Linked DNA regions of Homo sapiens: region 2 is linked to region 1. Evidence: fine-mapped expression QTL. A gene starts in region 1. The other region holds a variant in brackets. All regions are shown on one strand. Distances are between the middles of the regions.

The links. PIP is the estimated chance that this variant, and not a neighbour inherited with it, causes the effect.
Region 2: its variant is fine-mapped to the expression of ZDHHC21 in cerebellum (GTEx, PIP above 0.99).

What each region holds. Positions count from the first base shown.
Region 1 is chr9:14,686,335-14,703,432 of GRCh38, reverse strand. ZDHHC21 (zDHHC palmitoyltransferase 21) reads left to right here and starts at 10,001. Exons shown (of 10, transcript NM_178566.6): 1 at 10,001-10,204; 2 at 13,048-13,096. RefSeq lists an enhancer at 9,496-9,996 and silencers at 10,070-10,139, 10,220-10,359.
Region 2 is chr9:14,658,219-14,669,990 of GRCh38, reverse strand. ZDHHC21 (zDHHC palmitoyltransferase 21) reads left to right here. Exons shown (of 10, transcript NM_178566.6): 6 at 7,665-7,776; 7 at 11,104-11,242. Among named protein-coding and RNA genes, the nearest start is that of ZDHHC21, 29 kb to the left of the region's middle. The variant T/A (reference allele first, on the strand shown) is at 8,269.

The DNA of each region.
Region 1 (17,098 bases):
CAATGGTGCGATCTTGGCTCACTGCAACCTCCGCCTCCCGGGTTCAAGCGATTCTCCTGCCTCAGCCTCCTGAGTAGCTGGGATTACAGGCACTTGCCACCATGCCCAGCTAATTTTTTGTATTTTTTTTAGTAGAGATGGGGGTTTCACTATGTTGACCAGGCTGTTTTCGAACTCCTGACCTCATGATCCGCCTGCCTCAGCCTCCCAAAGTGCTGGGATTACAGGCATGAGCCACTGCGCCTGGCTGACACTTCCACTTTAATACTCCAGCATGCATCTCCTAAGAATAAGAATATCCTCCTATATAATTAGAATACTATAATCACTCCTAAGATAATTAACAGTATTTCCAAACTATCATCTATATTTTGCATTTTAACAGAAGATTCTAGACCTAGTTGTCTCTCTCTCAAGTACAGTGGGACAAGTTTCAGATATTGTGACAGACCAATGGGGAAGATTTTGGGGGAGCAAGCAGCAGGTCTTATGAGACAACCCAAATAAGCCTCAAGTTAGCTTTGGGTTGACTTCACAAAGTTCATCAGACAAATGTGCTATCTTGCCAGAATGGCCACTGCACTTGACACACAGTCTAAGCTAACGCAGATAGGTCATGTGGCTTCTAGGAGCCACTCCTACACACTGATTTCAACTATAAGACAGGGGAAACACTCTTTCCTTCCCTAGGAAACTTCAAAGAAAATCCTCCTGCTCTCATTTTCATAATAAAAAGTTGACTGGTGAATGTACAAAAAGGCATCCATGTAATTAACTATATACCCTGGTTTAAGTGATAAAGTTTGCTTCAGTGTAAATGATCAGTCAAATTACTCCCCTCTGTGATTAAAGAGTTAAAATTGTGGCCCAGCGTCATGCTCCAGGGCAGCTGTAAGAAATAGAGATCATGGGCGTTGTAGTGTGATAATTCTGCATACTCTCTAATATTGTCTTCATAAAATAGCATCAGCTGCTGCTGCATATGGTATAACTTTAATATGCTCTTTTAATATTTACAGTATGCCTATAAAAGATTTCATGATGACAGTTGGTGGTTCCCGTGGTAATTAATAAATGACAGTACAACTGTGATCAGATGGTTTTAGGAAAGAGTCTCTCAGAATGCTGGCTTTCACAAATCCAGGCCTGGGGATGATTTCTGGGGGCAGGGTTTTCTAAACCTGAGGTTGACCCCATGTCGTTATTTGCCTATGTGGTTTTGTAGAGTTTTATCTCCAGGTTCTTCCCAAACAGCAAAAAGTGGGAAAGAAGACAGAGGAGTTAGTAAGAAGGTTGCCTGCTAGAGCAGATATGAATTTGGAAGTGACTTTTTTGTTTTTGTAATGCAGTTGTAGTGCAACTTACTCCTTGACAAAGAATATGTAGATATGTGTGAGTTTGGTAGGTCTTGCTACCTGAAGCAGCATAGGTAGTTAATAAATCCCACATGTGGTCAGTGTCTTCTAAGTAGTTGGTCAATCTTTTACCATTGATTCCACTGAATTCTTTGATAGTGTTTGCTTGCCTCAGGCCATTCATCACCACACTTTGAGCCCGTATTGCCTATGGGATTTTCTCACGCATCTCTATTTGCTGTTGCATCCATGTGAACCATGTTTTTTATCACCTAAGGCTGAGGCTTCCCACGATGTGTCAAAAGGTGAAATTCCAGGTGGCCTAAATTTTCCCATTTATTAGGTGTAGGTACAATGAACTCAAAGCAGGTATGTTGAATTATTATAGTATATTTGTAAACCAACAAAAGTTAATTCTATAAAGTGTTTTGGAGCCATAAGATATAACAGAAAGTATTTCTTTTGTTACTTTTGGTACCAGGATTTTCCTTGAAGGACTTGGAGATTCATTTCTGTATTCAACATTCTCTTCACCTGAGCAAAGTGAAGAAGTACTGTCTCCTTCTGCCTTTTCATCTCCTTTCCCAGAGCTCAGCACTCTCCTCTTTCCTTTGACTTTCTGAGAGCTCAGCACTTCCCATTCTGTGTCCACATGTAGCTGAGGGTAGCCATTAGATTGAAGCTCTCAGCTTTCCTCTTCACTCTTTCAAAATCTCCCACTTGGGTACTCTCTGGCTCTTCTTTTGCTTCTGACTTTGAAGATTAAGTAGCTATTCTCCTAGCAAAGAGAATCCTCTTATCTGGACTCTTGATTCTACTGGTGCTCTTGCCCCATACTTTAACTCTTAATTCTAACTTGTCTTTCTTCTCTTTTTATGATCTTATCTTAGAGATAACTCATGCTTCCTCATCCTAAAACACAAACAGGAGACAATCCATTAACTCATTTCAAAACCAGCTATGCCTACTGTCTCTATTTCTAAATAATCTCTCTTCTCAGTTTAATTACCTAGTTATTAAAAATCTACTCTTGAGTTTTCCAGGAAAATCCTGCTCACTAAATCTAATGGTCTTTTCTCATGCCTTATGTTCAACCTTTCTTCAGACTTTCAGATCCCTGCCTGTCCTCCACCAATTTCCTCCCCTCCCTGGACTTTTGCAAACCCTTTGGTATCAAAGACCAGATATAGATCCCTCCTCCAAGGGCCTGCCAATCACTCTCATTCTTCCTTTGTACTTTTTAGTTTCATTGTATATTAATTCAACCAAACTACTGGACACCTATAATGGATATAGAGTTGTGGGAAGCAACGGAAAGACAAACACAAATAAGACTGGATATGTTCTTTCCTGGAGCTCACTGTCTTCTGGGGAATATTTATAAGCAAACAGATCATTACAGCATGGTAAGATCTGTGATAGATGAGTCAAGAGAATCCTGTGGAAGCCCAATAGAAGGTGCCTAAGTTAGTCTGGTTGTTCAGCAGTAAGAGACTACCAGAGATCTGAAAGAGGAGTGCAGAGTTAGCAGCTGAGAAGGCAGGGAAAATGATGGGCCAGCAAGCAGTTTAGTGCTACTGTAACATACACTGGAAGGAAAAGCAGAGGAAGGAGTTGAGAGATGGCAGCAGAGATGAGACTGAAGAGGTCAGATTGTTAAGGAACTTTTATGCCACGCTAAGCTTTCATTTTACAATAAAGACATGGGTAGAGTGATGAGAGTGGTTAGGTTTGCTTTTATGAAAGAGTTCATGAGTGATATTGTGCAAAACAGATGGGTTGGGGGCAAGATTAGGGATAGGATGACTACTGCTGTAGTACAGGTGAAAAATAATGACAACCTGAACTCAGTGCTGTAGGAATGCAAAGAAATGAATGGCTTCGAAGGATCTTGTGGAAGTGAAATTGATCGAGTTTGGTGACTGGGTGTGAATGGATTGAGAGGGAGGAGACAGAACTTCTTAGTTTTCAAGCTTAGACAACAGATGTTTCTGAAATTGCAATACTAGGGGGAGAAATAGAGCTGGGGTGGTAATGAAAGATTTGTTTTTGAACACGTTGAGTCTGAAGGTTTGTGGAAACATTCTTCTGGGACCTGCCATAACTGGGATTTTCTCTTTGCTTTGGAATAGGGCTCTTTTGATTTTTAAAATGCCAATGAGGTAAAAATTTGTGGGACAGCAAGAGATAAAAGCCAGTGAAAGGCCTTTGTATACTCTTATTTCTTATCCAAAGCAATGTGCAAATCATATTTAGATGTTACCCACCACTGGCTTCAGCCTTCCACCTGAAGGTAATTGTCATAATAGTTACTGAGTCATTTCTCATGCCAGATTCAGGTTTAAGTGCTTGACATATATTGATTCCTTTGATCTTCATACAATCTAATATGATGACTATTATTATCCATTTTTTACAGATGAGGAAACGAAGGCATCAGTAATTAAGTAACACATACTTAGTAGTGTTAGAATCAGGGAACAAAACCAGGCAATCTCCCTCCACTATATCCTCCTCCATTCTGAGGCGAAGAGTTTCCAATCATTCACAAAGCAGGAATTCACAAACTCTGATTCATGGGGACCAAATATGGGCTGCTGCTCGTTTTTGTAAATAAAATGTTATTGTTGCATGGCCATGTCCATTCATTTACATATTGTCTATGGCGACTTGGCAATCCAATGACAGAACTGAATAATTGCAACAAAGACTAGACCACAAAGCTAAAGCTGTATCTGGCCGGGCATGGTGGCTCATGCCTATAATCCCAGCATGTTGGGAGGCCGAGGCAGGTGGATCACCTGAGGTCAGGAGTTCAAGACCAGCCTGGCCAACATGGTGAAACCCTGTCTCTACAGAAAATACAAAAATTAGCCAGGCATGGTGGTGCACGCCTGCAGTCCCAGCTACTCGGGAAGCTGAGGCAGGAGAATCACTTGAACCTGGTAGATGGAGGTTGCAGTGAGCTGAGATCATGCCACTGCACTCCAGCCTGGGCAACAGAGACTCCATCTCAAAAACAAACAAACAAACAAACAAAACTATATCTGATCCTTTAAAGAATGCATGCAAAGTGCGCTAGACCCCCAATTTGTCATTTCTCCCTTCATGTATGGGAGTGAACAAGGATAGATGTATGACCTTTGTTCTTATAGCCAAATCTCTGCAGAGATGTCCCTGATAACTTCCCAGTCAAGGCAGAAACTTCTGATTTTTTTTTTTTAATCATTTAGTCTTCCTGTGGCAGAAATTGTGGGCCAATGATAAAACCATTTACAACTTCCTTTGCTTTATCTGGGGTACAAAGTGACAACTTTCTCGCTAAGTTATTAATGAAGACATATATATATATATATTTGAGGGGCAAAGAGATTAAAAATAAAAGGGGCACTATCCAAGAGATTAGTAGATATTTTTTATTTTCCTTGCAAACAAACAAGAAGTAGTCTCTTAGAGGAAGGGAGACACAGAACCTTAACCTGATATGTGTGAGAACAGCAGTACTCTCTTATTTTTCATGACTGGTCCTACAGACTTCGCACCCATTTGAGCCATCATAACAAGTGTGTAGTGGGGCTTCTAGAATTTATGGCTCTGGAGCCCAATAGAGTGCAGGGCTGGATATATTGACTTGGAAGTAGTTGAAACATAGGAGATTCTTGAATCATTTCTTTCTCTATCTGATCCTTAAAGGTACTGTGGTTGTTTCTGCCCTTCGCTCTCTTCTCCTACTGCATCCCATTTCTTGGTGACCAAATCCACTCTTACATTCTCAATTGTTCCTGCTGGCAGAGATTCCCTGAAGCCATATTGCAACCTTGAACTTGCTTCCCTAGTTCAGCCATAGACGCCCACTTTATTTATCTATTGCTAGGACATTTGTTTCCTTTTTGCTATTTTCTTTATAATGAACTCTCTCAACAAAAATCTCAATCTCCGTCCTTCATGCAAAGAGGTTGGCACCATCAAAATTGTCCTACTTTTAATATGTTATTTATATTTTGATAGGGAAGGACTTTTTAAATCACTTTTCTATACCCATTTTACTTCCCTATTATCTTGGGACTCTGTTAATTCTATTTACTTAAATTAAGCTGTTGTGAATAGACTCTACTCACAATTTTTTTTTAGAAAGCACCTGTTTCCTCTGCTTTCTACATCAATCCACATTTCTTCAAAAGATGAGGGATGAGGATGACCTAGTCAAAGCCTTGCTTCCTCCCATATTGGAAGAGTCCCTGTGTGAACTTATGAGCCTTATTACTTGTAATGGAAGCTACTTTATTGTGCTATTGACACGGAAAGGGAGACTCTTTCTTGACTTTGAGTCCTGGGGAGTGGAAAACTTTCATCATCAAATGAGTTGTTAAAACCTAGAGGATTACACCTGTAGCCTGACAAACTCATATTTATTGCCTTGCATAGAGAGATGTCACTCCTAGGCAAGAGGGAGGAAGGAGGCATCTTTTGTAAATTGAACTTCCATTGAAGAATTTTGAGGAGCATCTAAGGGAAGCAGGTATCCATTTTGGATTGGTTGTTTTGAGGTGGGATTAGGAAAAGAGAGATTTAGCCAGGATTGGATGCTGTCATGAGGGGATGATGGCTGAGCAATTGGGTATCTCTAGTAATAAATGAAAATAGCCAGCAGTCAGGGGCATCATTGGTGAGAAGTCAGCAATCACCTAAAGAGGGGATCATTATGGCACTTTATAACTGCTGCATGACCTTGGCAGAAAGTGTTTCCTGCTAATTTTGCAGCTGGCTTTATCTGTGTCTGTCCTCCTTGTCTGATTAGTGGCAGGGCTTCTTTTCTCTTTTCAGTCCAAATTGATTCTCACTCTTTTAATCCAAAAGAGATTTTAACTCTTTCAGCATCCTAGACTCAACTCATCAGAACATTCACTAGGATGCGTTTTCCTACTAGCACTTAACCAAGTGTAAGAATCTCAGGTTCATCATGATTTAATTGAATAGAAACTTCTAGAGCCACCATCAAACAATCCAAAGTTGAGGTAAAGCAATGTGGCCTAACAGGTTCCAATGTAGTATACTTAGAACCTTTCCAGATGCCCCACTACTCTGCCTTTTGATAATACCACTGCCCTCACTAATAGTCTTTTCCAGCTTGGAGCAGGTCATCACCTTTTGCCAAAAGCCTAAGGACTCTTCATTGGGAATAGCATTGTTTCTGAGGCTCACCATGCTTGGAATCTGTTCCACATTTCCAGCCCTCTCTCTTTCCATGTATCCTACCTTTGAGCCACACCAGAGGGATTCTTGCACTTTCATTTCTCTATGTTTTTGCTTACACTTTCCTCTGTCCTGAAATTTCTTTCCCTCCTTTCCCCCAATCAAAATCCTATTCTCACTTGCCTGATACAGGAACCATTCTCCAAGAAGCCACCCTTGAACTATCCCATGGAAATTACTAGTTTCTTCATTAGCACTTCCATAAAACTTTCCTTGTAACTCTGTTTAGCACTGCTATTGTTTTTTTCTCCTAAGCACACAGTCGTTTTTGTTTGTTTGTTTTGCAGTTTTCCTTGATATTTGGGGAAAAATGTTTATTTTACCTACTCTCTACATTCTAGGGATATTTCTTAGCCTGAAGTTCCTGGCTTCGCTGTGATCCTTTGGAGGCATAGGAAGGTGGGGCAACTTGTGAAACTTCATATATATAAATTTCATATATATAAATATATATGTTCCTGTATGTGTGTGTGTATATATGTGTGTGTGTGTGTGTGTGTGTGTGTATTTGTGTATATGTGTACTTTGCTGGGGTCCACAACTTTCATCAGATACTCAAAGAGATGTGTAACCCAAAAGAGAAGAGGTTAAGAACAACTTTTAGAATATTAGATTGTTATGGCACAGGCACTCTGCCACTCAAACAGATGGGAGAGACAACTATAGGCAACCAAGAAATCATGAATGTGCATCAAATATGGGTGCTTAAGGCATGGTACCCAGCTGGGCAGGTGGAGAATGCCATCCATCCAAAGCTGCCAAGGGCTATTAGCCAGTACTGATTAAACTCTGGACTGCACTGATTTTTGGAAATTGCACTAAAATCCAGATCCTCCCTAGTCACGGCACAGAAGCACAGGAGTTGGCTGTGTTTACCCTCATAAATGCCCTGAGTGTGCCTTTGTTAGAAGCTTGGTTGGCAGTGGCAGCAATGCTACTTGTCCTTGTCTACTTTTTCTACTTCCAGATAAATATTAGTTTGATTAATAATCACATTTCAGTTTGTCCCAGGCCCCATGAAGTAGATTAGAATTCTGGAGGGAAAAAATATGGTACGATCTATATCGTCTTTCCATAATATACCCAGTAAATAGAAAATCTTTTCAAAAGATTACCTGATGCCACATCTCCCTCACCCCCTTATTGTTACCCAGGTGCCTGAATGTATGGGTTGCAATACAATATAACCAATGATTAGCATGAATGATAGAACCAGATGACTTGACCTTCAGTGTAAGGGATAGGCAGGCCTTTGATTATACTCATGAAATGCCCATGCTAAAAAGGTTCATGTTTTTAAGGATGTTTCTCCTGCCTCTTCTCTCCTATTCCCTTGCTTAAAAATTCTCTGTGGAATTGATTTGGCTGATAAAAGACAGGCTAACTTATTTTAAAAAGGGACTGAAAAATCCATGCACTTCCAATTGTCATGTGCAATCATGGACCTGTCAACTAATTCTTATTTTGGCAGTTTTGAGATCACTTGTCACAAATTATTCCCTCTCACAGGGGTATCTGAAGAGAAAGCAAAATAATATGCAATTCATGTAGCTGGATTCAGGTGGAGGGGATTCTACTTTTAATATGCAATTGGGTAGCTGGATTTGGGTGGGGGGGGGATTTTACATTTAATATGCAATTCTGGTAGCTGGATTCGGGTAGGGAGGAGTCCACATTTAATATGCAATCAGGTAGCTGGATTTGGGTAGAAGGGATTCACATTGAATACGCAATCAGGTAGCTGGATTCCGGTGGGAGGATTCCACATTTCCTCTTCCTTCAAAGTGATTGTTTATATGAAATATCTCCTTCTTTTCAAACAGAGAAAGTTACAAAAATCCTACTACATCAAATGATTTATGAAAAATAAAGGTAATTCTATCAAAAGCAATCGTGACTAGTCTTTCAACCTCGCTATGCATATATCGGGGAGTGTATTTGTTAACCTGAAAGGCAATAAAATCTGCTTATGGGTAAATCAATTCCTACCACTGGGTTCTTTTGGGAATATCTAGTAATCTAGGTCAGTAATTCTAAAACTTGAGTGTGTATTAGGATCACCTAAAAGGCTTGTTACATCACGGATTGCTGGGCTACACCTAAACAGTTTCTACTACAGTAGATCTGGGATGGGGCAAAAGAATATGGATTTCTCACAAGTTGACAGGTGATACCGATGCTGCTGGTCTAGGGATCCCACTTTGATAACCACTGACCAAAGTTTTTAAGGTCACAAGGTGTTTATAATTAGTTCAGAAACCAGGACACAACATGTTTAAAAATCCTTAGCAATACAAGGTAATATGAGGCCCCAAACAGGCAACAATGTGCACTATATAAGGGCAGTGGTGAGAGAACTCTGGTTTGGCAAGATTTCCACTCTCAAATCTGGATAGGGTTAAGATCATCAGAGAGCAGGGCATTCTAGAATGGGGAAATGAACCAAATTAGTTGGAGCTAAGACTGGAGAGGTAGGTAGGGATGTGTCTGTGGAGGGCTTTTAAGCACATCTTATAAGGAATACAGATTTTATACAACAGGTAATATTTCTTCCACCAACACACTGTCTCCTCCTGTGGCACGTGGGCAGAAAGATCTAGCTCCACATTACTGCAAACGGTTTAACCTTCCCCAAATACTGTTCAGCCGGAGTGAGGTGGGAAAGTTAGTAGATCTCTGGTGTTTGGTGAAGATACCAAGTTAGACTGAGAGGTGGATTACTTGCATCGCTGAGTCCAAAAGTTGTCGGCTTTTGCAGGGATGGGAAAGCAGGAAACTTTTGGAGGTCTCCCAAAATATAAGAAAAGATTGTTTGGGTGTGGATTTAGGTTGAGGACAGGAACAGGAAATATCCTGGGATGTCTGAGGCAACCCAATAGAGGGTCTGAAGTGGACGAGACCATGCACTACAGTGCAATGCTTTTCCATCTTTACGGTGCACCCCAGGAGTCACCTGGTGATCTTGCTGAAGTGCATGTACTGATTCAGCAGGCCTGAAATTGTGCATTTCAAAGATTGTGAGTTCCCAGAGGATGCTGATGCTGCAGACCGCGCTTTGAAGCAAGGTACCATGGGACATCCCAGAACACCTGCGGGGAGAGAGGCCTGCTGGCCACATCCCCCGAAGAAAGGATACATGCAATCTTTTAAGCTAAGGCCCCCATCCTGTCTCTCGGGAGAGGTGAGCAGTGAGGATATGGGGACAATGAGAAGGACGGCTCAAGTAGGGCTGGGGAGGGGCAGAGGCGCCCAGGCGCGCCAGGTGCAAGCGCTCTGGAGAGTGCGGTCTGCCTGGGTCCGCGGCTCTGGGGCTGCGGCGCGATTGCAGGAGTTTCGGCCCTCAGCGGCTCCCATCGCGGCTCCCGGGAGCTAAGCGAGACGGCGACGGCGGCAGTCGTCCCTCCCCACGCGGGCGCGCGGGCATGCGGACACCCACTCGGCCGGTCCAGGCCCTCAGGCTCCCGGAAGCGGAAGGGGAGAGCGGCCCGGCCTGGGCGGCGGCGCCGGAGGAGGCGGAGGTGGCGCGGCAGGAGGAGGGGAAAGAGCTGCTGGCGGTCGGGAGAGCGGCGGCAGCGAGAGGCGAGCCAGCGGCGACGGTGAGTGTGCAGGCGCGGGGGCGAAGCGGCCGCCCCCACCCCCATCCCCATCCGCACCCCCACCCCCATCCCCGGCCCCCGCTCCGCTCTGCCGGGCCCGCCCGCCGCTCCTCCGCGCCGGGACGCCCTCACCTGTTCCTGCACGCCCCCTGCACCTGCTCTGTTTGGAACCCGGGGGTTTCTCGGTGCCTCCCCGCCCCAGGCCTGGCCTTTTTCAGAGCGTCTTCTGCTAGAGCTACAGCCCCTTGCTAAGTGCTCCTCCCTCAACTGGGGGTGGGGGGTTCCTGCTCTAGTCGAGACGATGTTGGCTAGTTATTTATTTATTTATTTTAAATCTGTATCCTGAGTTTCTCGCTTGTAAACTACAGTTTCTCTCCCCGCACCCCCGTCTGGAGACCTGCACTGGGATCCCGGGTTTCTCTGTGCTATTCCAGAGCTTTTCATTCATTCCAGACTTCTGGTGTGAAGCTGCAGAGAGGACAAACAGTTTGCTCCTTTATTGACCTTCTCACTCCTCTCCTCTTGATCCAAAGAGGTTTTCGGAAAATGGCTTATGGATGGCAGCAGTTTGCACTTGTTACTGTTCACTGTAACAGGTCGCTGGATTGTAACTGCAGAGTCCATTTAAGTTACGGTCTTTTTCAAGCTATATGTGGGTCACATTTTAAGATCCCTTGAGAGTCAGGGTGGATGTCTGTATCACCAGGGCTGAGAGGACATGACCAATTATTACTTTAAAATATTGCAATATAGCAGTCTCTAAAAGTAGAAGAGAAAAAAAAATCAAGGTCATTGTGGGCGGGTCATAAATTATATTGTAAAGTTACAGTCCAAAGGCGACTAAGGATAATTAAGTGCAATTTAAAAAGATGTGTTAAATAGGTCCTCAGCCTACTATGCTAATATATGCACTTTTAAAAATTCACTGCTTTCCTTGTGGTAAGAATAATATTAATAACAGTCACCATTTGATGACTGCTTAGTATGCGCCATTCCTGGATTAAAAGGCTTTTGGTGTAATATTAAATTCTTCCAACTCTTTAGATTTTACTTATTTTAAAGGTAAAATTCGGAGAGATGCTCTGTTTTTCCTTAGTTTGTGCCATCTCTTAAAAGCAAAAAGATATTTGAAGAATTGAGGTGAGAAATCCACTGGAAAGAAAGAGCCAAATGAGATTTGGTGTCGTGGAAAGAAAAACTAGATTCTAGTCCCATTTCTGTCACTATCCAGCTGTGGGTTTACAGGTAGGGCAATGACCCATGTTATTTTCTCTATACCATCAGAGAGCCAGACTAAATTATTTAAGGCTTATTTTAGCTTTTCCATGCTTACTTGGAAAATGTTTTTAAATAAGACCCTTTAACGTGGTTTGAAGGTACATTAAAAACATATACGAAGTATTAGTAAAATATGAAAATATAAGTTAAAATGTATAATTCCATAATTGTTTTGGTGTAGTACTCTTCCAGAATTCATCATTTTCGATGGAAACAATTCTATTAGATCCTTTGACACTACTGAGATTTCTGTTAACATACTTGAGAAGCTGTAGTTGGAATAAATGAAATAGAGCGTCATTTAAAGAAAATGATGAGGACCGTGTCACTTTTGCCTACGAGGTACTTTGTTTAATAAGAGAAATCTAAGCATTTAAAAATGCAGACATATAATCAGCTTAACAGGAAGTTCTGAGACAAGAATCAATGAATCATAACATGTACTTCTTATTTGCCTACTGCCTCATTTCTTTAATTCGTAATGACCGATTCAGAACCTGTGGAAAAATGCATGAATAAAATAATGGTTTTATAAAATGTGACCCACATATAGCTTGAAAAAGACCGTAACTCAAATGGTCTCTGCAGTTACAATCCAGGGACCTGTTATAGTGAATAGTAACAAGTGCAAACTGCTGCCATCCATAAGCCATTTTCCCGAAAACCTCTTTGGGTTGAGAGGAGAGGAGTGAGAAGGTCAATAAAGGAGCAGTTTATTGTTTGTCCTCCTGCTAGTCTTATTATATAGTGGTTTAGTAAAGAAACTGCTTGAGAAGTTGAGTAATGTCTCAACATGGAGCTGTTTTTCTGGAATTGTAATTGAATGTGACTCAGTGAAAACTTTTTTAGCATAGGAGGTGACACAGTGGCAGTATCAATACTACCAGGCAAAAGAGGGAAGGCAGAGGAAAGGCTGTTTTTATTGCCAAGAGTTTGTTCCCTAAATTCAGTTTTACTTTTATATTAAGGAATGTAACCTTTTATGTTGTTTTAGTAAAACATTAGGGCTCAGATTCAACTTTTCACATGCATTAAATATAATAGGCAATTTAGCATCTAGTAGAATAATCAGTGCTTAAATAACTCTTATTAAAGGTAAAAATACAGGTGAAATTGTAAAACAGTTTTTATTGTTGAAAGTGATTTGTTAAGAATTCTTGATAAGTCAAGTCAGACTAGTTTAAAAAGCACATTTTCATAGACATGTGAATCATCACTGTGCTCATTGATAGGTCCCTGAACAAAAATACCTTAGTATGATGGTACTTTATGTGTTTGTTTTGCTCTTTAGACCTAACCTAGGCAAAATTGTGACATTTTTGAAGTTTGCCTTCTGCCTTTCAAGCTGCTTTTTCCTCTGTGCTATTTCTCTCAGGGTAGATTAACCTTCTTCCCCATTTCAGAGACTCTCTTAACCGATGTGTTGCCCCTTCTACAAAAGGGCAGGTTGGGTAAAATTGATATTTTACCATTCACTGGTGAATTTTATTTTAAATCTAACCTAAAATGCTCAAGTGTGATGTCAACCAAGCTTCTGATTTTAAGCTTTTTATCTGTAATTACAGAATGAAGAACTTTTTCACTTACTGCAGGATTTTCAGCTTCAGCAAGCAGGTGAGGAGAGATTTTTCTTATGGTGTTAGTGTTCTTAAATCATGGCTGCTTTGGTAAAGCCTGGTGTGAAGGAAATCTAATTTAGTCTTCTACCCCCAACCCCCCACCAATCTCTCTTGGTGTGGTGGGTACTAGAAGGTAAGTAGCAGGCTTCCCTTCCTTCTTGGAAGAACATACTTGATTCATACCCAGGAAAAGCCTGGGCCTCTTCATTTCTGGCTTTTACTGTATCTGAAGGTTTTTTCCTTGTGCTGATTTTGGAACAAAAGTTACCTTTTTAAATCCCTGTCCCTATCCTACATTTAATCTTGCCTTTTCAGTCCCTTTTCCCACTCCTATCTCCCTAATGAAAATTCCCACAGAGACCTTTTGTACTGACTGAAACAATATTTGGTGGTCTTTAATTCGTATCACCCCACACCTCCCAAGCTATTTTTACTTTTTGTTAGAAGATTCTAATGAAGTGAGCTTGAGCCAGGGAGAATGGAGACTGAGGCTGCAGTGGGCTGTGATTGCAGCACTCCAGCCTGGACAACATAGTGAGACCCTGTCTCAGACAAACATACCCAAAAAACAGTGGCCCAGTTATCTACTTTCTCTAAAGTTAAAGCAAGTTAATGCAAGCAGGGAAAAATAAAGGTAAATGCCTGTATTAGCAGTACTAATACTACTAGTAGTAATACTACTAGGATAGTGTTAGCAGTATTAATACTGCAGTGTAGTACTACTAATACAGTCATGTACATTTATTTTTCACTCATGAGACTGGTGCACACAAAAACAAATTTATGAGAAGAGCAACAGCTTATGCTCAATTTTGCCCAGAATGTAATTTAAAGACTTAGTCTACAGAGTGGATTCTTGAAACCATTGATAGTGCAAGTATTTTATGCTTTGACACTTTGTCCACCCACGTTTTTACAAAGTCTTCCTGGAAAACTCAGCAATTGATTCAGAATCCCTGCTTGCATTATACATTCTTTATTAGCTTCTGAGATCAAGTACTGATTTTCTTTCACACTTTATTCCTTTGCTCACCAGTCCTGCTTTTACTTGAATGTGATTTAGTTTAGGGGCTTCAGTTCATTCATTCTATTTTAGATCAAATCTCTATTTTCGGTTTTCTTCTTAAAGATCCCCCTAACCAACGTGTAGAAATACAACTTCAGCTAGTATGATACTAGCCGAAGGGCTGTAATATTTGAAGTTTTTTTGACTAGTTCACAGACTTTAAAAAAGTAGATAACGGGGCATTTTTTGTTGTTCTTGTGTTTGTTTTGTTTTTTGTTTGAGACAGGATCTCACTCTGTTGACCAGGCTGGAGTGCAGTGCAGTCACAGCTCACTGCAGCCTTGGTCTCCATCTCCCTGGCTTAAGCGATCCTCCCACTTCAGCCTCCCAATAAGCTGGGACTACAGGCATGTGCCACCACACCCGGCTGGTTTTCTGTTTGTTCGTTTTTTGTTGTTGTTTTTGAGACAGAGTCTCGCTCTGTCACCCAGGCTGGAGTGCAGTGGGGTGATCTCGGCTCACTGCAACCTCCGCCTCCCGGGTTCAAGCAATTCTCCTGTCTCAGCCTCCCGAGTAGCTTGGATTACAGGTGCCCACCATCATGCCTGGCTAATTTTTGTATTTTTAGTAGAGATGGGGTTTCACGACGTTGGCCAGTTTGGTCTTGAACTCCTGACCTCAGGTGATCCACCCGCCTTTGCCTCCCAAAGTGCTGGGATTACAGGCATGAGCCACTGTGCCTGGCCCCCATTTGTTTGTTTTTTAACTAGTGGCTAGGTCTGGCTGTGTTGCCCAGGCTGCTGTGGATCTCCTTAGCTCAAGCAATCCTACCCCTACTCACCTCCCAACATGGTATGATCACAGGCAAGAGCAGGCCCTGGGGTATTGTTAAACTGTTTCATTACTTTTAATGATGGGGACCTAGAAACGTTGTTTCATTCTGGAGTTTGTAAAACTAGAAGTAAAACTTATCTTTCACTTTCCCTTCCTCTGCTCTCTCCTTCGCTCCCCTGTAAAGTTAGCATTTTGGAGGCGCTGCTTTGCCAGTCAATTTCTCATTTAAGCGTGACAGCAACTGTGTAAGTTGACATTTTTATCTCCATTTTACAGATGGTCAAACTGAAGCTTGAAAAGAAACTAAAGCTTGGAAAGTGAATAAGAGACTATGTCATAATTTCTCTTTTAACATCTGTAGAAGATTAATTTTTTAATCTGTTGATAATCAACTGAATATCTATGTGATATTTAAAAAATTGAATTCCTAATTGGCAATGAGAGCTTGATTTTTATGGAGAATTATTTAACTGCCACACTTGACTAATTTTCAGAGTAGAATGATATCAGAAGTCAAAAAGTTTTATAAATACGTTTACAGCTGTAACTCTGCTTTCTAAATTCATTTGGCTGTAATTAATAAGTTTAAAATTTCATATATTCATCTAATAAGCATTTTCTCTTGGCACTGTGGAAAAAAAATTGGTATGTTTGAAAACTTAGCTTGTAAATTGTTAGATTGTATTCTTTCAGGCGTAGCAATATTAAAAATATTTAATGACATTTTATAGTTTTGAAACTTTGAAATTGTTTTGTTGTTCCAATTTTTTGAATGTTTAGGCCCAACGTTACTTTTGTTTTGTTTTGTTTTGAGACAGGGCCTTACTCTGGCACCCAGACTGGAATGCAGTGGCACGATGATTTCTGCTCACTGCGGCTTCTGCCTCCTGGGTTCAAGCTTCAAGCGATTCTCGTGCCTCAGCCTCCCGAGTAGCTGGGATTACAGGCGGGCGCCACTATGCCTGGCTAATTGTTGTATTTTTGGTAGAGACGGGGTTTTAACATGTTGGCCAGGCCAGCCTCAAACTCCTGACCTCAGATGATCTGCCCACCTTGGCCTCCTAAAGTGCTGGGATTACAGGCATGAGCCACCATGCCCGGCCCAGCATTACTTTTATTACCACATAGATGAGATTTCATTTCTCAGAGGTAGTGGTGTTTATCTAGTACTGAAATACGAATCTCATTTCAGAGGCTGTGTCTGCAGTGTAGCTCTGATAACTATAAATGTAAAGTAGGATTTTTCTTGATTTTAAGCCAGCAAGTGACTGGGATTTGACTCATGGGTGATTGGCCTGTGCTATAACCTACTAACGTTACTGACAGAAACTACTATTTTGCTGAAACATTAGGAAGCCACTCTCAAGTCATAGACTTAGTAGCATTATTGTTTTTGGCCATCTTTCAAAAATGTTTGGTTGTACCACATTTAATTCTGTTTGAATTTTTTTCTGAAATAATTCATTTATTTGCCATTGGGGTAGCAGCTCTTTAACATTGTTTTTTTTTTTGTTTTTTTGAGATGAAGTCTCGCCCTGTCGCCCAGGCTGGAGTGCTGTAGTACAGTCTCTGCTCACTGCAACCTCTGCCTCTTGGGTTGAAACGATTCTCGTGCCTTAACCTCCTAAGTAGTTGTGATTACAGGCACACACCACCACGCCCAGCTTATTTTTGTATTTTTAGTGGAGACAGGGTTTTCCCATGTTTGCCAGGCTCGTCTTGAACTCCTGACCTCAAGTGATCCTCCCACCTCGGCCTCCCAAAGTGCTGGGATTACAGGCATGAGCCACTATACCCAGACTTTAACTTTGTAATTCTGTGTTTAGTCTCTAAAAAGCAAAGGTGCAACCAAGGAGCCCACTTTAAATTAGCTTAAAAAGTTAAGAGTAGAAACAAAGTTCATTTGACGATCTAATAACTATGGACCATAGAAAAGTTGACCCTGGGAGGATATACAGGTTCTGTGCCCCCCACAAATGTATAAAGGGAAAAGAAATGTAATAATTTTGATGTATTTTTTACATTCTCAGTATTTAATAGTCTGCTGTTGCTGTGGTAACCAGCACACTTAACACACTTGTAACTTGGCCTTTGTTCCCTGTCTTGGAGAATGGTTCCACCCTTCACCTAGAGCCTAAGTGTGAAACTTGGGAGCCA
Region 2 (11,772 bases), 31 kb after region 1:
TTTAGGGTACATGTGCACATTGTGCAGGTTAGTTACATATGTATACATGTGCCATGCTGGTGCACTGCACCCACTAACTCGTCATCTAGCATTAGGTATATCTCCCAATGCTATCCCTCCCCCCTCCCCCCACCCCACCACAGTCCCTAGAGTGTGATATTCCCCTTCCTGTGTCCATGTGATCTCATTGTTCAATTCCCACCTATGAGTGAGAATATGGAGTGTTTGGTTTTTTGTTCTTGCGATAGTTTACTGAGAATGATGATTTCCAATTTCATCCACGTCCCTACAAAGGACATGAACTCATCATTTTTTATGGCTGCATAGTATTCCATGGTGTATATGTGCCACATTTTCTTAATCCAGTCTATCATTGTTGGACATTTGGGTTGGTTCCAAGTCTTTGCTATTGTGAATAATGCTGCAATAAACATACGTGTGCATGTGTCTTTATAGCAGCATGATTTATAGTCATTTTGGGTATATACCCAGTAATGGGATGGCTGGGTCAAATGGTATTTCTAGTTCTAGATCCCTGAGGAATCGCCACACTGACTTCCACAATGGTTGAACTAGTTTACAGTCCCACCAACAGTGTAAAAGTGTTCCTATTTCTCCACATCCTCTCCAGCACCTGTTGTTTCCTGACTTTTTAATGATCGCCATTCTAACTGGTGTGAGATGGTATCTCATAGTGGTTTTGATTTGCATTTCTCTGATGGCCAGTGATGATGAGCATTTTTTCATGTGTCTTTTGGCTGCATAAATGTCTTCTTTTGAGAAGTGTCTGTTCATGTCCTTCGCCCACTTTTTGATGGGGTTGTTTGTTTTTTTCTTGTAAATTTGTTTGAGTTCATTGTAGATTCTGGATATTAGCCCTTTGTCAGATGAGTAGGTTGCGAAAATTGTCTCCCATTTTGTAGGTTGCCTGTTCACTCTGATGGTAGTTTCTTTTGCTGTGCAGAAGCTCTTTAGTTTAATTAGATCCCATTTGTCAATTTTGTCTTTTGTTGCCATTGCTTTTGGTGTTTTGGACATGAAGTCCTTGCCCATGCCTATGTCCTGAATGGTAATGCCTAGGTTTTCTTCTAGGGTTTTTATGGTTTTAGGTCTAACATTTAAATCTTTAATCCATCTTGAATTGATTTTTGTATAAGGTGTAAGGAAGGGATCCAGTTTCAGCTTCCTACATATGGCTAGCCAGTTTTCCCAGCACCATTTATTAAATAGGGAATCCTTTCCCCATTGCTTGTTTTTCTCAGGTTTGTCAAAGATCAGATAGTTGTAGTTATGCGGCATTATTTCTGAGGGCTCTGTTCTGTTCCATTGGTCTATATCTCTGTTTTGGTACCAGTACCATGCTGTTTTGGTTACTGTAGCCTTGTTGTATAGTTTGAAGTCAGGTCGTGTGATTCCTCCAGCTTTGTTCTTTTGGCTTAGGATTGACTTGGCAATGCGGGCTCTTTTTTGGTTCCATATGAACTTTAAAGTAGTTCTTTCCAATTCTGTGAAGAAAGTCATTGGTAGCTTGATGGGGATGGCATTGAATCTGTAAATTACCTTGGGCAGTATGGCCATTTTCACGATATTGATTCTTCCTACCCATGAGCATGGAATGTTCTTCCATTTGTTTGTATCCTCTTTTATTTCCTTGAGCAGTGGTTTGTAGTTCTCCTTGAAGAGGTCCTTCACATCCCTTGTAAGTTGGATTCCTAGGTATTTTATTCTCTTTGAGGCAATTGTGAATGGGAGTTCACTCATGATTTGGCTCTCTGTTTGTCTGTTGTTGATGTATAAGAATGCTTGTGATTTTTGTACATTGATTTTGTATCCTGAGACTTTGCTGAAGTTGCTTATCAGCTTAAGGAGATTTTGGGCTGAGACAGTGGGGTTTTCTAGATAAACAATCATGTCATCTGCAAAGAGGGACAATTTGACTTCCTCTTTTCCTAATTGAATACCCTTTATTTCCTTCTCCTGCCTAATTGCCCTGGCCAGAACTTCCAACACTATGTTGAATAGGAGTGGTGAGAGAGGGCATCCCTGTCTTGTGCCAGTTTTCAAAGGGAATGCTTCCAGTTTTTGCCCATTCAGTATGATATTGGCTGTGGGTTTGTCATAGATAGCTCTTATTATTTTGAAATACGTCCCATCAATACCTAATTTATTGAGAGTTTTTAGCATGAAGGGTTGTTGAATTTTGTCAAAGGCCTTTTCTGCATCTATTGAGATAATCATGTGGTTTTTGTCTTTGGTTCTGTTTATATGCTGGATTACATTTATTGATTTGCATATATTGAACCAGCCTTGCATCCCAGGGATGAAGCCCACTTGATCATGGTGGATAAGCTTTTTGATGTGCTGCTGGATTCGGTTTGCCAGTATTTTATTGAGGATTTTTGCATCAATGTTCATCAAGGATATTGGTCTAAAATTCTCTTTTTTGGTTGTGTCTCTGCCCGGCTTTGGTATCAGAATGATGCTGGCCTCATAAAATGAGTTAGGGAGGATTCCCTCTTTTTCTATTGATTGGAATAGTTTCAGAAGGAAGGGTATCAGTTCCTCCTTGTACCTCTGGTAGAATTTGGCTGTGAATCCATCTGGTCCTGGACTCTTTTTGGTTGGTAAACTATTGATTATTGCCACAATTTCAGCTCCTGTTATTCGTCTATTCAGAGATTCAACTTCTTCCTGGTTTAGTCTTGGGAGAGTGTATGTGTCGAGGAATTTATCCATTTCTTCTAGATTTTCTAGTTTATTTGAGTAGAGGTGTTTGTAGTATTCTCTGATGGTAGTTGGTATTTCTGTGGGATCAGTGGTGATATCCCCTTTATCATTTTTTATTGCATCTATTTGATTCTTCTCTCTTTTTTTCTTTATTAGTCTTGCTAGCGGTCTATCAATTTTGTTGATCCTTTCAAAAAACCAGCTCCTGGATTCATTGATTTTTTGAAGGGTTTTTTGTGTCTCTATTTCCTTCAGTTCTGCTCTGATTTTAGTTATTTCTTGCCTTCTGCTAGCTTTTGAATGTGTTTGCTCTTGCTTTTCTAGTTCTTTTAATTGTGATGTTAGGGTGTCAATTTTGGATCTTTCCTGCTTTCTCTTGTGGGCATTTAGTGCTATAAATTTCCCTCTACACACTGCTTTGAATGCGTCCCAGAGATTCTGGTATGTTGTGTCTTTGTTCTTGTTGGTTTCAAAGAACATCTTTATTTCTGCCTTCATTTCGTTATGTACCCAGTAGTCATTCAGGAGCAGGTTGTTCAGTTTCCATGTAGTTGAGCGGCTTTGAGTGGGATTCTTAATCCTGAGTTCTAGTTTGATTGCACTGTGGTCTGAGAGACAGTTTGTTATAATTTCTGTTCTTTTACATTTGCTGAGGAGAGCTTTACTTCCTACTATGTGGTCAATTTTGGAATAGGTGTGGTGTGGTGCTGAAAAAAATGTATATTCTGTTGATTTGGGGTGGAGAGTTCTGTAGATGTCTATTAGGTCTGCCTGGTGCAGAGCTGAGTTCAATTCCTGGGTATCCTTGTTGACTTTCTGTCTCGTTGATCTGTCTAATGTTGACAGTGGGGTGTTAAAGTCTCCCATTATTAATGTGTGGGAGTCTAAGTCTCTTTGTAGGTCACTCAGGACTTGATTTATGAATCTGGGTGCTCCTGTATTGGGTGCATATATATTTAGGATAGTTAGCTCTTCTTGTTGAATTGATCCCTTTACCATTATGTAATGGCCTTCTTTGTCTCTTTTGATCTTTGTTGGTTTAAAGTCTGTTTTATCAGAGACTAGGATTGCAACCCCTGCCTTTTTTTGTTTTCCATTTGCTTGGTAGATCTTCCTCCATCCTTTTATTTTGAGCCTATGTGTGTCTCTGCACGTGAGATGGGTTTCCTGAATACAGCACAGTGATGGGTCTTGACTCTTTATCCAATTTGCCAGTCTGTGTCTTTTAATTGGAGAATTTAGTCCATTTATATTTAAAGTTAATATTGTTATGTGTGAATTTGATCCTGTCATTATGATGATAGCTGGTGATTTTGCTCGTTAGTTGATGCAGTTTCTTCCTAGTCTCGATGGTCTTTACATTTTGGCATGATTTTGCAGCGGCTGGTACCCGTTGTTCCTTTCCATGTTTAGCGCTTCCTTCAGGAGCTCTTTTAGGGCAGGCCTGGTGGTGACAAAATTGGTCAGCATTTGCTTGTCTGTAAAGGATTTTATTTCTCCTTCACTTATGAAGCTTAGTTTGGCTGGATATGAAATTCTGGGTTGAAAATTCTTTTCTTTAAGAATGTTGAATATTGGCCCCCACTCTCTTCTGGCTTGTAGGGTTTCTGCCGAGAGATCCGCTGTTAGTCTGATGGGCTTCCCTTTGAGGGTAACCCGACCTTTCTCTCTGGCTGCCCTTAACATTTTTTCCTTCATTTCAACTTTGGTGAATCTGACAATTATGTGTCTTGGAGTTTTTCTTCTTGGGGAGTATCTTTGTGGCGTTCTCTGTATTTCCTGAATCTGAACGTTGGCCTGCCTTGCTAGATTGGGGAAGTTCTCCTGGATAATATCCTGCAGAGTGTTTTCCAACTTGGTTCCATTCTCCCCATCACTTTCAGGTACACCAATCAGACGTAGATTTGGTCTTTTCACATAATCCCATATTTCTTGGAGGCTTTGCTCATTTCTTTTTATTCTTTTTTCTCTAAACTTCCCTTCTCGCTTCATTTCATTCATTTCATCTTCCATTGCTGATACCCTTTCTTCCAGTTGATCGCATCGGCTCCTGAGGCTTCTGCATTCTTCACGTAGTTCTCGAGCCTTGGTTTTCAGCTCCATCAGCTCCTTTAAGCATTTCTCTGTATTGGTTATTCTAGTTATACATTCTTCTAAATTTTTTTCAAAGTTTTCAACTTCTTTGCCTTTGGTTTGAATGTCCTTCCGTAGCTCAGAGTAATTTGATCGTCTGAAGCCTTCTTCTCTCAGCTCGTCAAAGTCATTCTCCATCCAGCTTTGTTCTGTTGCTGGTGAGGAACTGCGTTCCTTTGGAGGAGGAGAGACGCTCTGCATTTTAGAGTTTCCAGTTTTTCTGTTCTGTTTTTTCCCCATCTTTGTGATTTTATCTACTTTTGGTCTTTGATGATGGTGATGTACAGATGGGTTTTCGGTGTGGATGTCCTTTCTGTTTGTTAGTTTTCCTTCTAACAGACAGGACCCTCAGCTGCAGGTCTGTTGGAATACCCTGCTGTGTGAGATGTCAGTGTGCCCCTGCTGGGGGGTGCCTCCCAGTTAGGCTGCTTGGGGGTCAGGGACCCACTTGAGGAGGCAGTCTGCCAGTTCTCAGATCTCCAGCTGCGTGCAGGGAGAACCACTGCTCTCTTCAAAGCTATCAGGGACATTTAAGTCTGTGGAGGTTACTGCTGTCTTTTTGTTTGTCTGTGCCCTGCCCCCAGAGGTGGAGCCTACAGAGGCAGGCAGGCCTCCTTGAGCTGTGGTGGGCTCCAGCCAGTTCGAGCTTCCCGGCTGCTTTGTCTACCTAAGCAAGCCTGGGCAATGGCGGGCGCCCCTCCCCCAGCCTGGCTGCCGCCTTGCAGTTTGATCTCAGACTGCTGTGCTAGCAATCAGCGAGACTCCGTGGGCATAGGACCCTCCGAGCCAGGTGTGGGATATAGTCTCGTGGTGCGCCGTTTCTTAAGCCGGTCTGAAAAGCGCAGTATTAGGGTGGGAGTGACCCGATTTTCCAGGTGCGTCCGTCACCCCTTTCTTTGACTCGGAAAGGGAACTCCCTGACCCCTTGCGCTTCCCGAGTGAGGCAATGCCTCGCCCTGCTTCGGCTCGCGCACGGTGCGCGCACCCGCTGGCCTGCGCCCACTGTCTGGCACTCCCTAGTGAGATGAACCCGGTACCTCAGATGGAAATGCAGAAATCACCCGTCTTCTGCGTCGCTCACGCTGGGAGCTGTAGACCGGAGCTGTTCCTATTCGGCCATCTTGGCTCCTCCCCCCGAATTCAAAGTTTTAACACTGGGATGTTTGGGAGCATTGAGCTAAGTAGGGGAGTGGAATATGATATGCTTGTGACATTGTAATATGCTATAGATTAAATGAGTTTTTATTTCACTTAGAGGTAAATAGTACTAGTTTAACTATGTAAATTAAGCTTTAGTACTGTTGCTCTTGCATGATTTATTTTCATTAAAATAACTGTAAGAGATGAAAAAGTATTTTCTTTTAAAATAAGATTTCAAGTATAAGAGATAATTTCTCAACTTTCATATTATTGGAACAATTAATTTGATGTAGGTTTTATTCATACTTTGTTTCTTCAGAGATGTCTGTAGTGGGAGTATTTTCCCAACGCTTTACTATATAAAAGTCCAGCATGTTGATGTTGCTCCTGACCATTCAACTAAAGTAATGGAATTCAAACAGAGAATCTTAAAAAAGAAGAAAAAAAAGAGAAAAAAAAGAAATAAAAATATCAATATTGGTAAAAAAAAAAAAAAATCTGTAATCTGAAAAAAAAAAGAAAATTGAATATTGTCTACTATTATCTTTCACTTTTATTTAGAATCTTTCATTTTTTGATTTTAGACTTTTCATATGTCAGCAAGCATTTAGTGACTACCTAGTATGTGCTAGGGTCCTACTCTTCATGTACTAAAATTCAATCTGAATATAGGAGTTAGGCTAATCTTACTATGTCCATACTTTTAATGAGGTTATGGGATAGTATAAACACAGATGATGAAAATTAAAAGAATTTTGTAAAAGAAAAATTCCATTCCAATATATTTAAAAGATACATTTTTGTATAATAAGGCAATTGTCTTTTCTAGGAAGATGACTCTTCCATAGTTTTCGCGGACCTAATTAGGACAGTTTTTAATGAAAACAAAAGCCTTTTCTCTTATGCAAACTTTGTGTTTTTGGCACAGAGCTTAATCGTGTGCTGTTTCACTCCAGATTAGAGGAAATTGCTAGTTGGTGGTAGTTCAGTGTTTTATGAAGAACTCCTTTATTTTCATTAAAAATAGTAGTTGTCTTATAACATTTTTCACTACTGAAACTATTCTGATACCTCCCAAACCCATATGACATCCTTCTCTAACCTGTCCCATACACACTCTTAAATGAATCTACTGATGTTTTTTAAAATTAAATGATTTAGGGAAAGTGTATGTGGAGGGAAATGCCATCTGTTTTTCGGATGAGTTTATAGGGTTGATTTCAGTTTACTAATCAATTGAAACCAGGGTCAGCATTATTTCTTCTTTAGAGCCTTTAGAAAATGAAATTTCTAGAAATCAATTTGTTTAAATAAAATTGTTTTAGTATAATAATTTGGTTGGGCTCTAGGGTTTTGTCATTGGATTTTACTTATATTCTCACAGTATACCCAGAATCCAAATACATTGTTTTCTGTCTCTTACTTTGACTATAACAATAGTGTCTTATTTTTTTAGTCTTTTAAATTAGAAACACACAAAATAAGACATATGTAGAATAGAACAGCAGCATTTATGGCAAACACATTTATACCAAAGGCTTAGAAGAAAAATCTCTTAGAGTTTTATGTTGAAGGCTTCCTATAAAATCTTCTAAACAACTGTTGGTAAATTTCAGCATTACCCACTTGCCTTCATTAAATGGATTTTAATTTCTTTTCTTTAGAAAGGGAGTTCTGGGAATTATGTAACAAGTGTAATTTGATGAGACCAAAGCGTTCCCATCACTGTAGCCGCTGCGGCCACTGTGTGAGGAGAATGGATCATCACTGTCCATGGTAAGAATAATTCACTTCTAGCAAAGAAAAGAGGGGTGGGTAATAAAATGTAAATCTTACAACTTGGCAGCTTTAAACAACAGTTATGTTAAAGTTATATAGTTTTACAATATCTTAATAAGGATATCTTTATTTAGATTATATGGTTCTGTCAACTCCCAAAGTCATTTTTCCACAGAAATCCTATCTTTTCTAACAGGGAGAGATTTGAGCCAAAAAAGTAAGAATTAACTGCAGCCTGATATACAAAAGGATTAAGGTGGTTGTATTAAATGAGGCAATGTATATAAAACATTTACTACAATATCTGACAAGTAGGATGTACTTAAATGGTAGCTATTTCTAATTGTAATAAACCATATGCATCCGAATGTTTATATCCCCTTTTCATTTGTTTAATTAATAACATTTCAGACACCCTGATAACCTCTTCCTTACCCCTTAAAGCTTTTTAAGCATTATGTATTGGATATAGCTACTACCATTATGTAC[T/A]TGTTGGAAGTATGTGAGTGATAATTAGCTGATTCTGCAGAACTGCTAACAGTTTTGGTCAATAGGGGGCTCTCTTGTAATATTTAAAGAAAATGTTCAGTTGAGAAATATAATCTTCGAAAACAAATGCTGCGTGAATTCTGTATTGTATCTCATTTTAAAGCTGTCACAAAAATCTGTGAACAAGATATTGTATTTAATTCTGTTTTCTTAGCATTGGCTCTCTGTATAAATATTTAAACTGGTATAGTGTAGAATTTGACAAATGTATCTGTATACATATATGTAGTATTTATGTTTGTATACACATACATGCATATATGCAAATTTACATAATGAGCCTCTTAATTTATAATTGCTTTTATTTAAAATTGATGCAAGTGGAGTTTAGCTTTTTCTAATGTTAGTCTATTTAGAGTTTTCTTTATTTTTGATAACTTATTTTGATAGCACAGTTATTCAGCAAACTTCTGGTGGAAATTTGTTTTTTTGCATAGACTGTTTAAAAAGAAGATAATTTCCTGAAATAGGAAAAAGTAAGAGCATTTTCGATAAAAGCATTTTGTTACTACATAAAAATTTTAAAAATTTCTAAATCTGTCAACAAGATAGAGTAGTGTATGACATATAGTTGATATTCAAAACTGTGCCTTGAATTTAAACGTAAATAATTATTTGGGAATTACTTGGGAATAAAGATTAATTCCCAAGTAATTTTCTTAAGCTCAGTGATCTGTTTGCTCTCACAATAGTAATAGATTTTTAGAAAGCTACGTGAAACATGTATTCAGATAATTGCTGATCATACAGAAAAGCTCAGTTTTTAAGCGCTTCTTATTGTAGAGTTTCTTATTCACTAAAATACAAATGTTCATGATGGAAGTGGATATTGATGCTTTTTTTTTCAAACGAATGCAGTAGTAAGAAAGAACTAGGAAAGACTCACTTATTGGTGACCAAATAAGGTGCTATTTAACCTTAATTCTAACGTTGGGGTGATTTCTCTTTCTGGGCCTCTTGCTTCCATAGTTTTAGTCAACTTTTCAGAAGTTGGTAGCAGTGAGGGGGAAGTACAAAGGATTGGAGGATCAGAAAGGAGAGTAGACAAGGGACCTAAAGAGATTCAGGAATTTTTATCATTGAATTTCCTGATAGAGCACTGCTGAAATGTTCAGAGAGCAGGGGAAATGTACAGTGTAAATTGGAAGCAAGGAAAATTTTTGATGTTTTCAGAAATTGCACTACTTAACTGCCTAAGACATTTTTAGGTTTGGAGGTCAATTCTCACGTTGCCTCAAGGTTTTCTGTATTTGTGGCTCTGATCATTCTTTTTTTTTTTTTTTTTTTTTTGAGATGGAGTCTTACTCTGTTGCCCAGGCTGGAGTGCAGTGGCATGATCTCAACCTCTGCCTCACTGCAACCTCTGCCTCCTGGCCTCAAGTGATTCTCCTGCCTCAGCCTCCCGAGTAGCTGGGATTACAAGTGCATGCCACCATGCTTGGCTAATTTTTGTATTTTTAGCAGAGACGGGTTGTCACCATGTTGGCCAGGCTGGTCTCAAACTCCCAACCTCAGGTGATCTGCTCCCCTCGGCCTCCCAAAGTTCTGGGATTACAGGCTTGAGTCACCGCGCCTGGCCTGATCATTCTTTCTAAGTAGTGCAGATGTTACAAAAAGAACTCATATAGATTGAATACCTTAGTGCTTCTTAAAGCTGTTCTGGTTAAGAAGAATGCTGTGATCATAGACATTGTTTCTCAAACTTCCTGGGGACAGGAAAGATGGAACAATGATAAGTCATCTTTCAATCGGCAGCTGTTGAAGAGCACTTTTGAGTGTATATTAATACATAAGCACACTTCTCTTATAATCCTGCTTGCAAATAACAAAGCACAGTAGATTTTCTTGTTTACAAAACATGCACTCTTAAATCTTAAGAAATGCCTCTCTAAGGTTTTTCAGTTCAGGTCTGTATTTGACTTTAAAAAATGGTTTAATGACAAAGTTAAAAAGAGCGATTTAAGTTAGGACCGAAACCTGTTACATCGTTTCTTTTTCAGTGACAGTATAATACTATTTTGAAATGAAAACATTTGTGCAAAGTCATTTGTAGTCTTGAACTAGGGTTTTTTGCTGGAATTTTAGGATACTTTGACAATTTGGATACAATAAATTTGGAACAATAAAATATTCAGCTTAAATTAGCCTTGAAAATTTTTTATTGTAACATTAATCCTCTTTCCTAGTTAGGGTTCACTGTTGTATTGGTGGAAGTATAGCTGTGTGTATTTATAAATAGTTTTGAATACATTTTTATTTTCAGCAACCAGGGGTAGATTTTTAAAATGAAAAGTGAATGCTTAGCAGTTATGTCAGAGTGGTATGTTTCAGCTGGTTTACTTCAGGGCATTCAGATTGCTTTTCACAGCTAGAATGCCCTAAAGGAAGAGCAAAATACAGGGAAGCAGGGTTCTTGCTCTCTTGGCCCCTATGTCTTCTAACTCTACATCCTCTGGCCAGAGGCTTAGCTCCTTTGTTCCCTGTTTCCATATCAGTGACACAGGAGACTACCGTCTGCTCTTCCTGTCTCGCTGAGTTGTTATGAGTTGAAGGGGGATCACATATGTGGACTTCCTTTGTGAAGTGCTTTACAAATATAAGATGGTATATTTATAGTTTTCTCTGTATAGTTTGTTTTTACCTTCAAGTGGCCATAGCATATCTCCATGAAGTTAAGCATATGTGATATTATTTGTTTTTAATTTAGTCTTATTGATCCTGAGGTGAACTTCTTGAAATTTAAAATATTGTTTCTTTTTCATTTTTTTTCTTTAGGATTAACAATTGTGTTGGTGAAGATAATCATTGGCTCTTTCTGCAGTTGTGTTTCTACACTGAACTTCTTACTTGCTACGCACTGATGTTTTCTTTCTGCCACTATTACTATTTTCTTCCACTAAAAAAGCGTAATTTGGTAAGAAATGTTTATATTGGGAGGCCGAGGCGGGCGGATCACGAGGTCAGGAGATCGAGACCATCCTGGCTAACACGGTGAAACCCCGTCTCTACTAAAAATACAAAAAATTAGCCGGGCGAGGTGGCGGGCGCCTGTAGTCCCAGCTACTCGGGAGGCTGAGGCAGGAGAATGGCGTGAACCCCAGGGGGCGGAGCCTGCAGTGAGCCGAGATTGCGCCACTGCACTCCAACCTGGGCGACAGCGAGACTCCGTCTCAAAAAAAAAAAAAAAAAAAAAAAAAAGAAATGTTTATATCCACTAACATTAGAGCAGTTGTAGCATACAATTATTAACATGTGGTTCCTTTAAGTACAAAAGATTGGAAACAAAACAACAAAAGATTGGAAACAAAACAACAAAAGCAAACTCCCAAATTGGTGAATTTTGAACTATATTGGGATTGAGAAAGTGGGCCCTAGTCTGACATTTCCTTTTAATGAAATTCATTTATGGTTATTTATTAGTGTTGAGCTTAGAAAGCAACACGT